Linked DNA regions of Homo sapiens: all the other regions are linked to region 1. Evidence: fine-mapped expression QTL. A gene starts in region 1. Each other region holds a variant in brackets. All regions are shown on one strand. Distances are from middle to middle.

Evidence for each region. PIP is the estimated chance that this variant, and not a neighbour inherited with it, causes the effect.
Region 2: its variant is the best candidate, but not a certain one, in a credible set for the expression of ALG12 in whole blood (TOPMed, PIP 0.53).
Region 3: its variant is the best candidate, but not a certain one, in a credible set for the expression of ALG12 in whole blood (INTERVAL, PIP 0.54).

The regions. Positions count from the first base shown.
Region 1 is chr22:49,916,748-49,920,747 of GRCh38, forward strand. It overlaps ALG12 (ALG12 alpha-1,6-mannosyltransferase), which reads right to left and starts at 1,691. Exons shown (of 10, transcript NM_024105.4): 1 at 1,516-1,691. CRELD2 (CRELD disulfide isomerase 2) reads left to right here and starts at 1,887. Exons shown (of 10, transcript NM_024324.5): 1 at 1,887-2,151; 2 at 2,483-2,565; 3 at 2,983-3,093; 4 at 3,409-3,500. The coding sequence starts at 2,023. RefSeq lists silencers at 1,281-1,480, 1,591-2,090.
Region 2 is chr22:49,941,325-49,945,485 of GRCh38, forward strand. No RefSeq gene overlaps it. Among named protein-coding and RNA genes, the nearest start is that of PIM3, 17 kb to the right of the region's middle. RefSeq lists enhancers at 1,381-2,107, 2,108-2,833 and a silencer at 2,782-2,961. The variant G/A (reference allele first, on the strand shown) is at 2,049.
Region 3 is chr22:49,879,112-49,883,272 of GRCh38, forward strand. The region is part of intron 1 of ZBED4 (zinc finger BED-type containing 4); the gene reads left to right. It also overlaps a transcript of ALG12 not described here. Among named protein-coding and RNA genes, the nearest start is that of ZBED4, 27 kb to the left of the region's middle. RefSeq lists an enhancer at 2,649-2,878. The variant C/T (reference allele first, on the strand shown) is at 1,992.

The DNA.
Region 1 (4,000 bases):
TCAAGACCAACTTGGGCTACATCATGAGACCCCATTTCTACAAAAATAAAAAATAAAACGGAACGGGGAGCATCTACGTGCCAAGATGTGGGAGGTGCACACAGCAAGTGCTGCTTGGCAGTCCCCCACAACCCCACTCCACACCTCTCCACCCAGGGGAGTTCCCCAGCAAGGAAGAGTTCAGCTGTGGGGTGAAAACATTACGTGCTGACTCTGACACTCCTGGCGGGCCCCCAGCACCTCCTCGGACCCAACAAGGTGTGCCTTCTGCTGATGACCAGCACAGCTCACTTTCGAGGGCATGAGAAGACCAAGGGTGAGTCTGGATTCTCTGCCAGGAGCACGGGAAGACCAAGTCAACACCAGCAAGCACGAAAACCACGACGAACCCCCCACCAGGCGAGGGTGAACGGACACTGTCCTGCACTAGCCCACTCTGCTGGGCAGCTGGGCAGCAGCTGTGGCTAATCTAAGTGACGGGTGCTTCGAGAGCACCCACAGGTTAAAACGGGCCCAGGCCATGACACTTTAAAATGGTGGTTTACAGAACAATGGCATCTCAGATTAGGGAATGACCTGCAAAGACCCTCTTGTCCCCATCAATCCAGATTTTAAGGCCTCTACCGAAATTGATCAAATCAGGCTAAGCATGGTGGCTCACGCCTGTAACCCTAGCACTTTGGGAGGCTGAGGCAGGCAGATCGCTTGAGGTCAGGACTTCGAGACCAGCCTGGCCAACATGGTGAAACCCCGTCTCTACTAAAAATACAAAAATTAGCCGGACCTGGTGGTGGGTGCCTGTAATCCCAACTTAGGAGGCTGAGGCAGCAGAATCACAGGAACCTGGAAGGCGGAGCTTGCAGTGAGCTGAGATCGCGCCACTGCACTCCAGCCTGGGCGACAAAGTGAGACTCCGTCTCAAAAAAACAGAAAAGAAACTGGTCAAATCAGATGTTACTTTTTTTTTTTTTAAATGTGCAGTGTTATCTGCACTCCTTCCTTCCACAGGCAGGAGTTCTCTGAAATCCAGACGCTGCACGTTTTATTTCCCCTAATTTAAACCAGGGGTTCCTGAACATGAGCGAGTGTTCATCACCTCAAGCGCCTGTAGAAATGCAGATCCCCAGCCCCCAGAGACCCTAAGTGGACCCCAGATCCCCAGCCCCCAGGTGAAAAACCCATCCCCCAGGTGGGAGGTCCGGCCCCAGGTGAGGAGCCCGGCCCCAGGTGAGAGGTCCAGCCCCAGGTGAGAGGTCGGGCCCCCGGATGAGAGGTCCGGCCCCCGGGTGAGAGGTCTGGCCCCCAGGTGACAGGTCCAGCCCCAGGTGAGGAGCCCGGCCCCAAGTGAGGGGTGCAGCCCCAGGTAAGGAGCACGGGGCTGTGACGCGTGGACATGCGCGGTGAGGCCTCAGGAATCCAGCGCCAGCGCCAGCTCGGGTCGCGCCCTCGCCCGCCTCCTCCCTGGTCTCGCCGCGCGCCCGCCTGAAGGCCCCGGTCGCGGCAGCGCGCACTGACCTCCGCAGCTCCCGGCGGCGTCCTTCGAAGCGCGGCTGCCTGGGCCAGCCTCGGCAGGAAGCAGGACGGCGGAAACAGAACAGAGCCCGAATCTAAAGTCCTTGCCCAAATCTAAAGTGGCTACCGCAGCCCCGGCCGCTACGGCCGCAGAGACCCTCTGTGCCCTGAGTAAAGATGGCCGCCGCGGGCTGCGCGCGAGGGGCGGGGAGCGGGAGGCGGGGTCGGACCTGCACGCCCCGCCCCCGGACTCCTGGCGGCCGCTGATCCGGGGCCTTCCCATTGGTCACCTCTCGTGGCGAACTCGGATTGGGCCATATCAGGCCGGGGCGGGTCCCATCAACCAATAGCGGCGCGGGGCTGGCGGGTGGGGCGGGGCCTCGCCGGCGCCGTCAAGTAGCCTGGGGGACAGGCCGGCGCGGCTGGGAGCGGGTGGGCGGCCGGGAGGCCGGAGCAGCACGGCCGCAGGACCTGGAGCTCCGGCTGCGTCTTCCCGCAGCGCTACCCGCCATGCGCCTGCCGCGCCGGGCCGCGCTGGGGCTCCTGCCGCTTCTGCTGCTGCTGCCGCCCGCGCCGGAGGCCGCCAAGAAGCCGACGCCCTGCCACCGGTGCCGGGGGCTGGTGGACAAGTTTAACCAGGTGGGAAGGGGCCGGGCGGGGTCGTCAACCTTGGGCCCGGGGTCCCCCTCACCCTGCATCCGGGGTCGCCCCACCTTGGGCCCAGGGTCGCCCTCACCCTGGATCCGGGGTCCCCCTCACCCTGGATTCGGGATCCCCCTCACCGTCGATCCAGAGTCCCTCCACCGTGGTCCTGGAGTCCCCCTCACCCTTGACCCGGATCCACCCCCACCGTGGAACCAGGGTCGACGCCACCGTGGGCCTGGAGTCCCCTCACCCTCGACCTGGGCTCGCCCCCACCCTGGACCCGGGTCAGGTGGTACCAAGCACTATGGGCACTGTCTCCTCGCAGGGGATGGTGGACACCGCAAAGAAGAACTTTGGCGGCGGGAACACGGCTTGGGAGGAAAAGACGCTGTCCAAGTACGAGTCCAGGTGGGTGCCCTGGAGCACCCCTGTGGGTCTTGGCCTGGCGCTGTCCTGGGAAGTCGTGTCCTGCCTTTGGTGCCTGTGTTAATGACAGGGAGACAGAACAGCCCCCGAGGCACCAGTCACCCGTCCGAGTCACCTCGGCTTCTCCCTGAGGACTAATGGCTGGCCCCTCTCTGGCCTTCCAGCTTCTGCTCTGGTCCCTACCCCCTCAACAGACAGTGGCTTTTCAAAATGTAAACTGGAACACCAGCCCCACTTGTGGGAACCGCTCCTGGCTTCCCCTGACAGTGGGGTCCCCTTATTCTCTGTGCCCGGAGTCCTGGCTCCCCGGCCCCTGCACCCAGGTTGGCGTATTGGTTCGGATTTTTCTTCACTGCCTTGGAGGCGCTGACGGTGGGCCGGTGTGGGCCTGTGTTTCAGCGAGATTCGCCTGCTGGAGATCCTGGAGGGGCTGTGCGAGAGCAGCGACTTCGAATGCAATCAGATGCTAGAGGCGCAGGAGGAGCACCTGGAGGCCTGGTGGCTGCAGCTGTGAGTGCCTTAAAACCTCTTAGAAGATACTTTTTATTTTCCAACTTAGAATTTGAAATAACCTCAGACTTAGAAAGGTACAGGAACAGTAGGGAGCTCCCACCTGCCTCGCACCCACCTTACCCCTGCATTACCGTTTTTTATCACCAGAGTCAGCGATCAAAACCAGGAAATTAAGGAGAAGATTCTGTCCACACCTAGACTCTTGTTTCCTGGACCTTACAATACTCCAGAGCATATGTTACGTTCAGCTGCATGTTTGTTTTAAAGAACCGTGTCTGCTGGGATTCAGTGAATGTTTTCCTCCATCCTCAGGAAGAGCGAATATCCTGACTTATTCGAGTGGTTTTGTGTGAAGACACTGAAAGTGTGCTGCTCTCCAGGAACCTACGGTCCCGACTGTCTCGGTGCGTTTCTCCTCAGGGAAATCCCATCTCCTACGTCACTTCCCCTCTTCTTCTCATGATTCTTGGGAGGTAAAAGCACAGAGGGGACCTGGGGTGCATCAGCTTTCTGTAGGGTCTGGGACCCTGCCGGATGGCTGCCTCCCCCATCCCCAACACAGCTTGGAGCACTTCGCACCGTCTGGCTGCAGCCTCACCACTAACCTCATGCTTTAGCGTAAAACTCTGAGTATGTCTTCCCAGCTGTGCTGTTAATTCAGGGGTTCACAGACTCAGGTTGTTCACAGCTGAGTCCACTCACCTGAGAGTCTGTCCTGACTGACCTGTCCAGGTGCTTCTCCCTGTGTGCACAGAGGTGACCACACCACAACTTCTGTGGCTGCTATTGCAGAGAGCGCAGGGCACTGGGTGTCTATCAGGCTGGGCACATGGCCTTGAGCCCCAATGGGTGCCAAGGGACAGGGCTCTTCTGTGAAGAAGTGTGCATTGAAACTGAAGTCACG
Region 2 (4,161 bases), 25 kb after region 1:
AGGGCTTGGGGTTCACTCCCATCAGGTGGGGCTGCACCAAGAGGCTGTGGCTGATGCTCAGAGGGTCTCTGCTGCTGAGCACAGGTGGGGACTGGGAGCAGCAGGCTGTGAAAGTCCCAGCCCGTTGGGAGGACAGGCAGTGGCCTGGCTGGATTCCAGGTCTGTTTTAATGTGGAGCTGATGGAACTTTCGGAGGCCGGGGTGAATGGTGAGATGTAGACAATTCCAAGAGCGGACACGGCTGGGGGGGCCAGGGCCTCAGTTCACACCCTGACCTGCCTTTGCGCAGAGCGGCTCCCAGGAAATCACACCCTTTCTGTGGCAGACACAAAGGTCAGGTGTGAGGGGGCAGGTGGACTGGGAGTTGGAGGAAGGGGAGGGCCCGGCCCTGTGAGCAGAGGGTGACCCTTCCCTGGCATCTGCTGCTGCCATGTGCCCCAGAACCACGAAGGTGTGTGGGTCCCACATCCACGTGCAGGCCTTGCATCCATGGCTAGGTCCCACGTCCAGTTCCAGGCCCGACATTCTGGTCCCTGGGTCCAGCCCATGGCCTTCCTCCATGGGCGTGCTGAGGGCCTGCAGCCCGTTCTCTGCCAGCCTGGCCCCTAACACAAGGCAGTGACCCCAGCCTCTCACCAAGGGGACCCATTAGCCACACTGCATCAGGCCTATGGCAGGTGCTCAGTGCAGTGTGGGCCATGATCCCAGCAGGCCCCACACCTCTCCAGATGCTTCCTGACCCCAAGGAGCCTGCATGCTGGCCAGGGTGGAAGCAGCTCTGAAGAGTCAGCACTCGCGGTGGCCAGGACCAGAGAGGAAGGCAGAGTGCCTGTGTCCCAGGAAAGAAGAGGGCATGGCGCCCAGCTGCGGGGCTGCTCTCAGGGCAGCAGCTGCTTTGGGGACACCTCAGCTGGAGTCTCAGGTCAGGGAACCCTTGTGTCCACACATCCACCTGTCCATTCACCCAGGGGTCCACCCATCCAGCCTTCTGCAGTGCTGACATCCATGGGCTCCCCAGGTTCATTTAATGGTGAATGAATGAATGAGCCCACTGTTTATCCAGGCGCCACTGTGGGCCATGGCACAAGTGGGCTCTCAGGAAAAACTACTTATCAAATGATGAATGAATGAATGTGTGAGAGACAGAGTGAGTGAGTGATTGAGTGAGTGAGTGATTGAGTGAACGAGTGATTGAGTGAACGAGTGATTGAGTGAATGAGTGAGTGAGTGAATGATTGAGTGAGTGAATGACTGAGTGAATGAGTGAGTGAGTGAATGAGTGAGTGAATGAGTGATTGAGTGAACAAGTGATTGAATGAGTGATTGAGTGAACGAGTGAGTGAGTGAATGAGTAATTGAGTGAACGAGTGAGTGAATGAGTGAACAAGTGAGTGAAAGAATGAGTGAGTGAATGAGTGATTGAGTGAATGAGTGAATGAGTGAGTGAATGAGTGATTGAGTGAACGAGTGAGTGAATGAGTGAGTGAATGAATAAATGAATGAGTGAGTGAGAGAATGAGTGATTGAGTGAATGAGTGAGTGATTGAGTGAACAGATGAGTGAATGAGTGAGTGAGGGAGGGAGTGAGGGAGGGAGGGGGTGAGTGAGTGGGGGAGAGAGTGAACTGGCCTCCCAGTCCCCCAGCTGCTCTCTGCTGACCCAAGATCTGGAGGTGCCCAGCTCCCGTCCTGCCCTCCCAGGTCAGTGGTGGCTGCATGTGGGAGGGAGGAGGGGTCCGAATGTTGTACTGTGACTTCTGAAGCCACAGGCAGCGCCGGAGTGTCTGGGGAGGACACAAAGCCAGGCTGTTCCCTGCGCAGGGGCTGGGCCTGCCTGGAGGTGAGCCGGGGCCAGGTAGGCTGGGGCCCGGGGGAAGGAGGGCTGGCCTTGCAGACAGGACACGCTGTGGTGGGCGCCGGAGCCTCCAGACCCGGGGTCGGCCTCGCCCATGCCCAGCGGCTGGTGTGGACCCCCAGCTGTCTCAGGTGGGGTGGGGTGGCCCCTGGGTGGCGGCGTTTCTGCAGCCCACCGAGCCACAGGCCGAGAGG[G/A]TCCCAGGGAGACTGGAATGCCAGCTCCTCATGGAATGGCCTTGGTGGCTCTGAGCGCTTTGCCTGAAAATCACTCTTTCCTAAAAATCACTCTAAGGAACTTGCTCCCCAAGCCTCCAAACCCAGAGCAGAGCCCCCGAAGCTGCTTGACAGGCGGGTGAGTGGGTGGGGCCGTGTGGTAAAGATCGTCTCATCTGAACAGCCCCCGCAGGAGGCCCTGGGTAGGCCTGGCCCCTGGTCGCTGAGGAGTGCCCAGCCCTCCAGGCCCCTGCAGGTCCCCCCAGCGCCCCACACCAGCCCTCCAGGGTGGGCCTGGCTATTGTCTCATTTCCAGCCAGGCCAGCTCTGGGTGCCATGCAGCCCATCGTGAGCTGAGAGCGGAACTCGGGGCCCTCGAGGCCCCCCCCACCCCGCCGCCCAGGCCTTTAGGGAAGAACCCACCCACCAGGCATGTCAGGAAGGTCGGGTTTTCTCCACGGATAAGGATCCCCACCTTCGGGGTCATCGGAGGTCACGCTACCCAGAAGGAAGAAGGTGAACGCAGGCCGTAGGGCTTCCTGGAGGAGGGGACCCCGGGGAGCAGCACCCAGCCAGCCAGACGCACGGGGGTGGCATGTGTGCATAGGCGTGTGAGTGCTGGCATGCATTTAGCGCCAGGGAGGGAGGCCCAGACTCACAGTCTTGCCAAGCTAGACACCTTTAGCCCTGGGCCCCCAAGAGGGGCAGCAACCCGGCGGGCAGGCTCCTGGCAGTCTGAGGAACAAGGCCCGGCTGGTAGGGATGGACATTTCCACTTCAAGACCCGCCAGAATCCCCCACCTGCGGGTCACCCAGGCCATGGCTGGCCACAAGCCGCCCTGCCGGAACTGCATGTTCTCAGTGTGGGCCCGAAAGGGATGGGGAGGCTCCTGCTCATCCTCAGCTGCACTCCCGCCCCCACTGCCCCTCTGGGAAGCCCCTGGCGTCTAACGTCCCATCAGCCAAAGACTTGCCAAGCACAGGCCCAGGCCTGGTCACCCCCAGCAGGGTCACCTCACTCTGGCCATGGAGGAGGTTGTGACACAGGATGGCCAGGCCTCAGCCCCACAGAGCTGCCTCCCTGAACCCTGTCCTGGCCTGGGAAGACTGGCTCTCACACTGCTGGGCCTGGGGACCAAGCCTGTGGGCAGAAGCGGCCCTCCAACGCTCAGGACAGGCCTGGGGTTGTCCAGGCCTCCCGGGTCCTGCCTCCTCCTGGACCTGGCCTTGGTCTGAGCACCTGTTCTCTCCATGCGGGTACCTGGGCCTCTGAAATCCCCGCTGGTGGAGGAGGTGTTGGGTGGCCCAGGATCACCAGCACACCAGGTGGCAGCCTCCACCCCAGACCTCAGGCTGCAGTGCCAGGCACCCAGAGCGCCAGGAGCCCACCGCAGTCACAGTGACAGCCGGGCCGTGCATCTTGGGGTGCGCTTGCGCCAGCCCAGAGCTCCTGACCGCATGATGTCCTGGGGGGTTGGGACCCGGAAAAAAGTCTCACTGCTCACCAGCCCCCCAGGAAACTCCGCCCCTTTACAGTGTCGCTGCTCACCAGTACCCCCAGGAAACTCTACGCCCCTTTACAGTGTCACTGCTCACCAGGTCCCCCAGGAAACTCTACGCCCCTTTACAGTGTCACTGCTCACCAGGTCCCCCAGGAAACTCTACGCCCCTTTACAGTGTCAACTGCTCACCAGGTCCCCCAGGAAACTCTACGCCCCTTTACAGTGTCACTGCTCACCAGGTCCCCCAGGAAACTCTACGCCCCTTTACAGTGTCACTGCTCACCAGGTCCCCCAGGAAACTCTACGACCCTTTACAGTGTCACTGATCACCAGGTCCCCCAGGAAACTCCGCCCCTTTACAGTGTCACTGCTCACCAGCCCCCCAGGAAACTCCGCCCCTTTACAGTGTCACTGCTCACCAGCCCCCCAGGAAACTCCGCCCCTTTACAGTGTCACTGCTCACCAGCCCCCCAGGAAACTCTGCCCCTTTACAGTGTCACTGCTCACCAGTCCCCCCAGGAAACTCTGCCCCTTTACAGTGTCACTGCTCACCAGGTCCCCCAGGAAACTCCGCCCCTTTACAGTGTCGCTGC
Region 3 (4,161 bases), 38 kb before region 1:
TCTACCCTGGCCACAGAGTGGGACTCCATCTCAAAAAAAAAACAAAAAACAAAAAAAAACAGGAGTGAAGTGGCGCAATCTCGGCTCACTGTAACTTGCGCCTCCCGGGTTCAAGCGATTCTCCTGCCTCAGCCTCCCGAGTAGCTGGGATTACAGGCACGCGCCACCACGCCGCGCTAATTTTTTTGTATTTTTAGTAGAGACCAGGTTTCGCCATATTGGCCAAGCTGGTCTCAACCTCCTGAGCTCGGTTGATCCGTCTGCCTCATCCTCCCGAAGTGCTGCGATTACAGGTGTGAGCCACCAAACCCAGCCTAATTTTTGTATTTTTTTGCAGAGACGATGTTTTGCCATGTTGCCCAGGCACACACCACTATATCCGCTCTTACAATAGCTGTTTTCATGTCCTTGTCCACTAATTTTATTATTTGTCTTATGTCCGGGCCTGTTTTTATTGGTTGGTTTTTCTCCTGGTCAGTGTCTGGGCGTGTTTCTATTGGTTGGTTTTTCTCCTGGTCAGTGTCTGGGCGTGTTTCTATTGGTTGGTTTTTCTCCTGGTCAGTGTCTGGGCGTGTTTCTATTGGTTGGTTTTTCTCCTGGTCAGTGTCTGGGCCTGTTTCTATTGGTTGGTTTTTCTCCTGGTCAGTGTCTGGGCGTGTTTCTATTGGTTGGTTTTTCTCCTGGTCAGTGTCTGGGCGTGTTTCTATTGGTTGGTTTTTCTCCTGGTCAGTGTCTGGGCCTGTTTCTATTGGTTGGTTTTTCTCCTGGTCAGTGTCTGGGCCTGTTTCTATTGGTTGGTTTTTCTCCTGGTCAGTGTCTGGGCCTGTTTCTATTGGTTGGTTTTTCTCCTGGTCAGAGGTGGTTTTCTCCCGCTTCATCGCAGGTCTGGTTGTTTTTGTCAGCCATTTTGTATTTTACTTTATTGGGTGCAGGATTTTGTTATATTCCTTTAAATGCTGTTGAGACTTGTTTTAGGTTGTAGTAAAGTTAATCATAGACCGTTTCCTCCTCTTGAGGCTGGCGTTTAAGCTGTGTTCGGGTGGCTCCTAACACGGCTTAAAAGAGCGGCCGTTGTTGTGAAGCCCACTGTTCAGTCCGGACCCTTCTGACCCTGCTTGCTGTTCACTCTTGGTGGTGGAAACACAAGCTGTTCCCAGCCTCCAGGGAGCCCTGGCAGTTCTTTTCCCCTTTGGTTCTCTGAGGGTGGTTTCCTCAAATGCAGATGCAGATCAGTATTCAGCCAAAGACACGAGGAACCTCCGCAGGTCTGCGTAGCTCCCTCCTCTCCCGCGCTCGGGACATGCTCGAGACCACCGGGCTCTGCCAAGTTCCGACTCCCCGCCCCGCAGCCTGGAAGCCTGGAAGCCCCGCCGTGAGCGAGGGCAGGTGGGGCTCCCTCTTTAGCTTTCACACTTCTGTGATCACTGTCCTGTGCTTTCTCTTCTCTCTCAGCGTCTGAAAACGTCGTTTCGTGCACGGCGTCTGGCTTATGAGTTGTCTGAGGTCAACCTGGTTTCCTTTGTTTTGTTCATCATGGCTAGAAGTGGAAGTGACTGTGAGTCCAGCTTTGTTCTTTCTTTCCAAAATAATTTTATTTATTCCTGATTCTTTGTATTCCCATATCAATTTTAGACTTCTGTTTATCAGCTACTGCAAAAAGCGTTTTGGAATTTTGACTGGGATCATATTGAATTTATAGGTCAATTTGGGAAAATACTGATGTCAACATTGAGTTTTCTAATCCATGAACTTGGTATATTTCTCCATTTGTTTAAAAGCCTTTAATTTCAGCAGTGTTTTGCAGCTTTCAGTATACAGGTCTTCTTTTTAAGACCTGTATACTTGTGTACCTGTATACTAAAACAAGCATATTTTAAAAATTTTATCTTATTTCATGCTTTCATGCATGCTTTTGGACATTATATGTGGAATTTAAAAATGTTTCATTTTCTGGCCAGGCGCAGTGGCTCAGGCCTGTAAACCCAGCACTT[C/T]GGGAGGCTGAGGCAGGTGGATCACGTGAGGTCAGGAGTTCAAGACCAGCCTGGCCAACATGGCGAAACCCCGTCTCTACTAAAAATACAAAAGGAATTAGCCGGGTGTCATGGCACACGCCTGTAATCCCAGCTACTTGGGAGGCTGAGGCAGGAGAAGCACTTGAACCCAGGAAGCGGAGGTTGCGGTGAACTGAGATCGTGCCGCTGCACACTGCAGCCTGGGCGACAGAGTGATCCGTCTCAAAAAAATTTGTTTTTCATTTTCTAATTCATCTGTAGAAATACAGTTGCTGTTTTTTTGAGATAGGATCTCACTGTTGGCCAGGCTGGAGTGCAGTGGCACAATGATAGCTCACCACAGCCTCAAACTTTTGGGTTCAAATCATCATGTCTCCTCAGCCTTCCAAGCAGCTGAGATACAGGCACGCACCACCGCACCTGGCTAATTTTGTTTGTAAAGACAGAGTTTCACTATTATTCAGGCTAGTCTTCAAACTCCTGCCCTCAAGTGATCGTCCCATCTCAGCCTCCTGAGTTCCTGAGTAGCTTGGGACTACAGGCTCACCATACTTGGCATTTTTTGTTTGTTTGTTTTGTTTTTTGTTTTGTAGAGAACAGGGTCTTGTTTTTTTGCCCAGGCTGATCTCAAACTTGTGGTTTCAAGCGATCCTCCCACCTCAGCCTCCCAAGTACTAGGGTTACAGGCATGAGCCACTGTGCCTGGCCTGTGTTAATTTTTTATTTTTCTTTTTTATCTGGCTGTACTTTGTAGAACTTATTGGGAATGCTTTTCAGAAAGAACCTGCATTTATTTCTGGTGGGAGCTAGCAGTTTTTATTAACCTTGGAACACTTTTTAGGGCAACCATACATCTTGCTTTGCTACAGATAGGTTTGGCTTAAGCCTGTTTCCCCAGCAGTATTATTAATAGCTCCCTTTCACTCTCAGAAATGCCCTGGTTTAGAAAATACATGATGTGGTGACTTCAGTTCTTGGTTCCTGCATGGTGGAGGAATGTCGGGTTCAGCTCCTCCCTGTGGGGGTGACCCATGCTGACCAGGCTAGGGATGGCGCACCTCTCCTGCCCATTTGCCACTCCCTGTGTCCCTTGAAGAGTTCTCCCACTTTCTGGCATGCCCAGTAATACTTTAAAAAGTAAGTTTGTGGTGGGCGCATTGGCTCGCGCATATAACTCCAGCACTTTGGGAGGCTGAGTCGGGAGGAGGGCTCACACCTGGGAAGTCGAGGCTTCACTGAGCTGTGGTCACGCCACTGCACTCCAGCCTAAGTGACAGTAAAACTCCGTCTCTTCAAAAAAAGTTTGTTAGAGGTTTTCTAGAGTCTGGTTTTATTATAGAATATTTATGCTGCCATATTACTGAAAACATGCTTTTGTTGCTACTTGGTTTTAGTTCCTTAGTAAACTGCTCCATCTCCTACCCCACATGACTCCATCGTCCTCCGAGCTTCGGCTCAGTTACACCCTTACAGCTCCTGCCCCTGTTCTCCGTCTTGCCCTGCTCTCTCCTGTCTTTGTAACGCCATGTTCCTTCACTTCCAGCGTTTACCATAGCTGGAATCTCACGGTTCTTGGCTGTCAGGTCCCGTGACTGTCTCCTCTTGGCTGCATTCCAGCACGGCGCAGCATCACTTGGGGACGGGGCATTGAATGGGTGACAGGAGGATGGGCTGGAAGCGGTTTTCACCCACAGGACGCCTTTCCCTTCTCAGATGCAGGAGCCACTGTGGTCCGTTTCCTATTCAGCTTTTCGTCTGGGTTGATGATTTCACACGTTAGCTAGAGTTTTTCAAATTCGTATTTCATGTATCAGGTCTTCTAGCAAGGAAGGATGAATAGATCTCAAGGAATTCAGCTTTGCTGATTATAGCAGCTGTGAGTACCTCTCATGAACTGTTTGAAGGATGAGGGCATAAATTCTAGATGAGGCAACCTCTTTATACCATTCTAGGTTTTAATTCATGTTCCCCAATCCTTTATTAATAGGCCACTTGCATTTTTTTTCATGTCTCTATTTTTTGCTTATTTTGCAATTTGGGGGTATTGTCATCCTGTAAACGGATTGCAGGAAGTCAGAGAACAAGTTTTTCGATTCCAGTTTTCCATTATACAGTTTTTTTCTATACATATTTAGGCGGATGGAGCCAT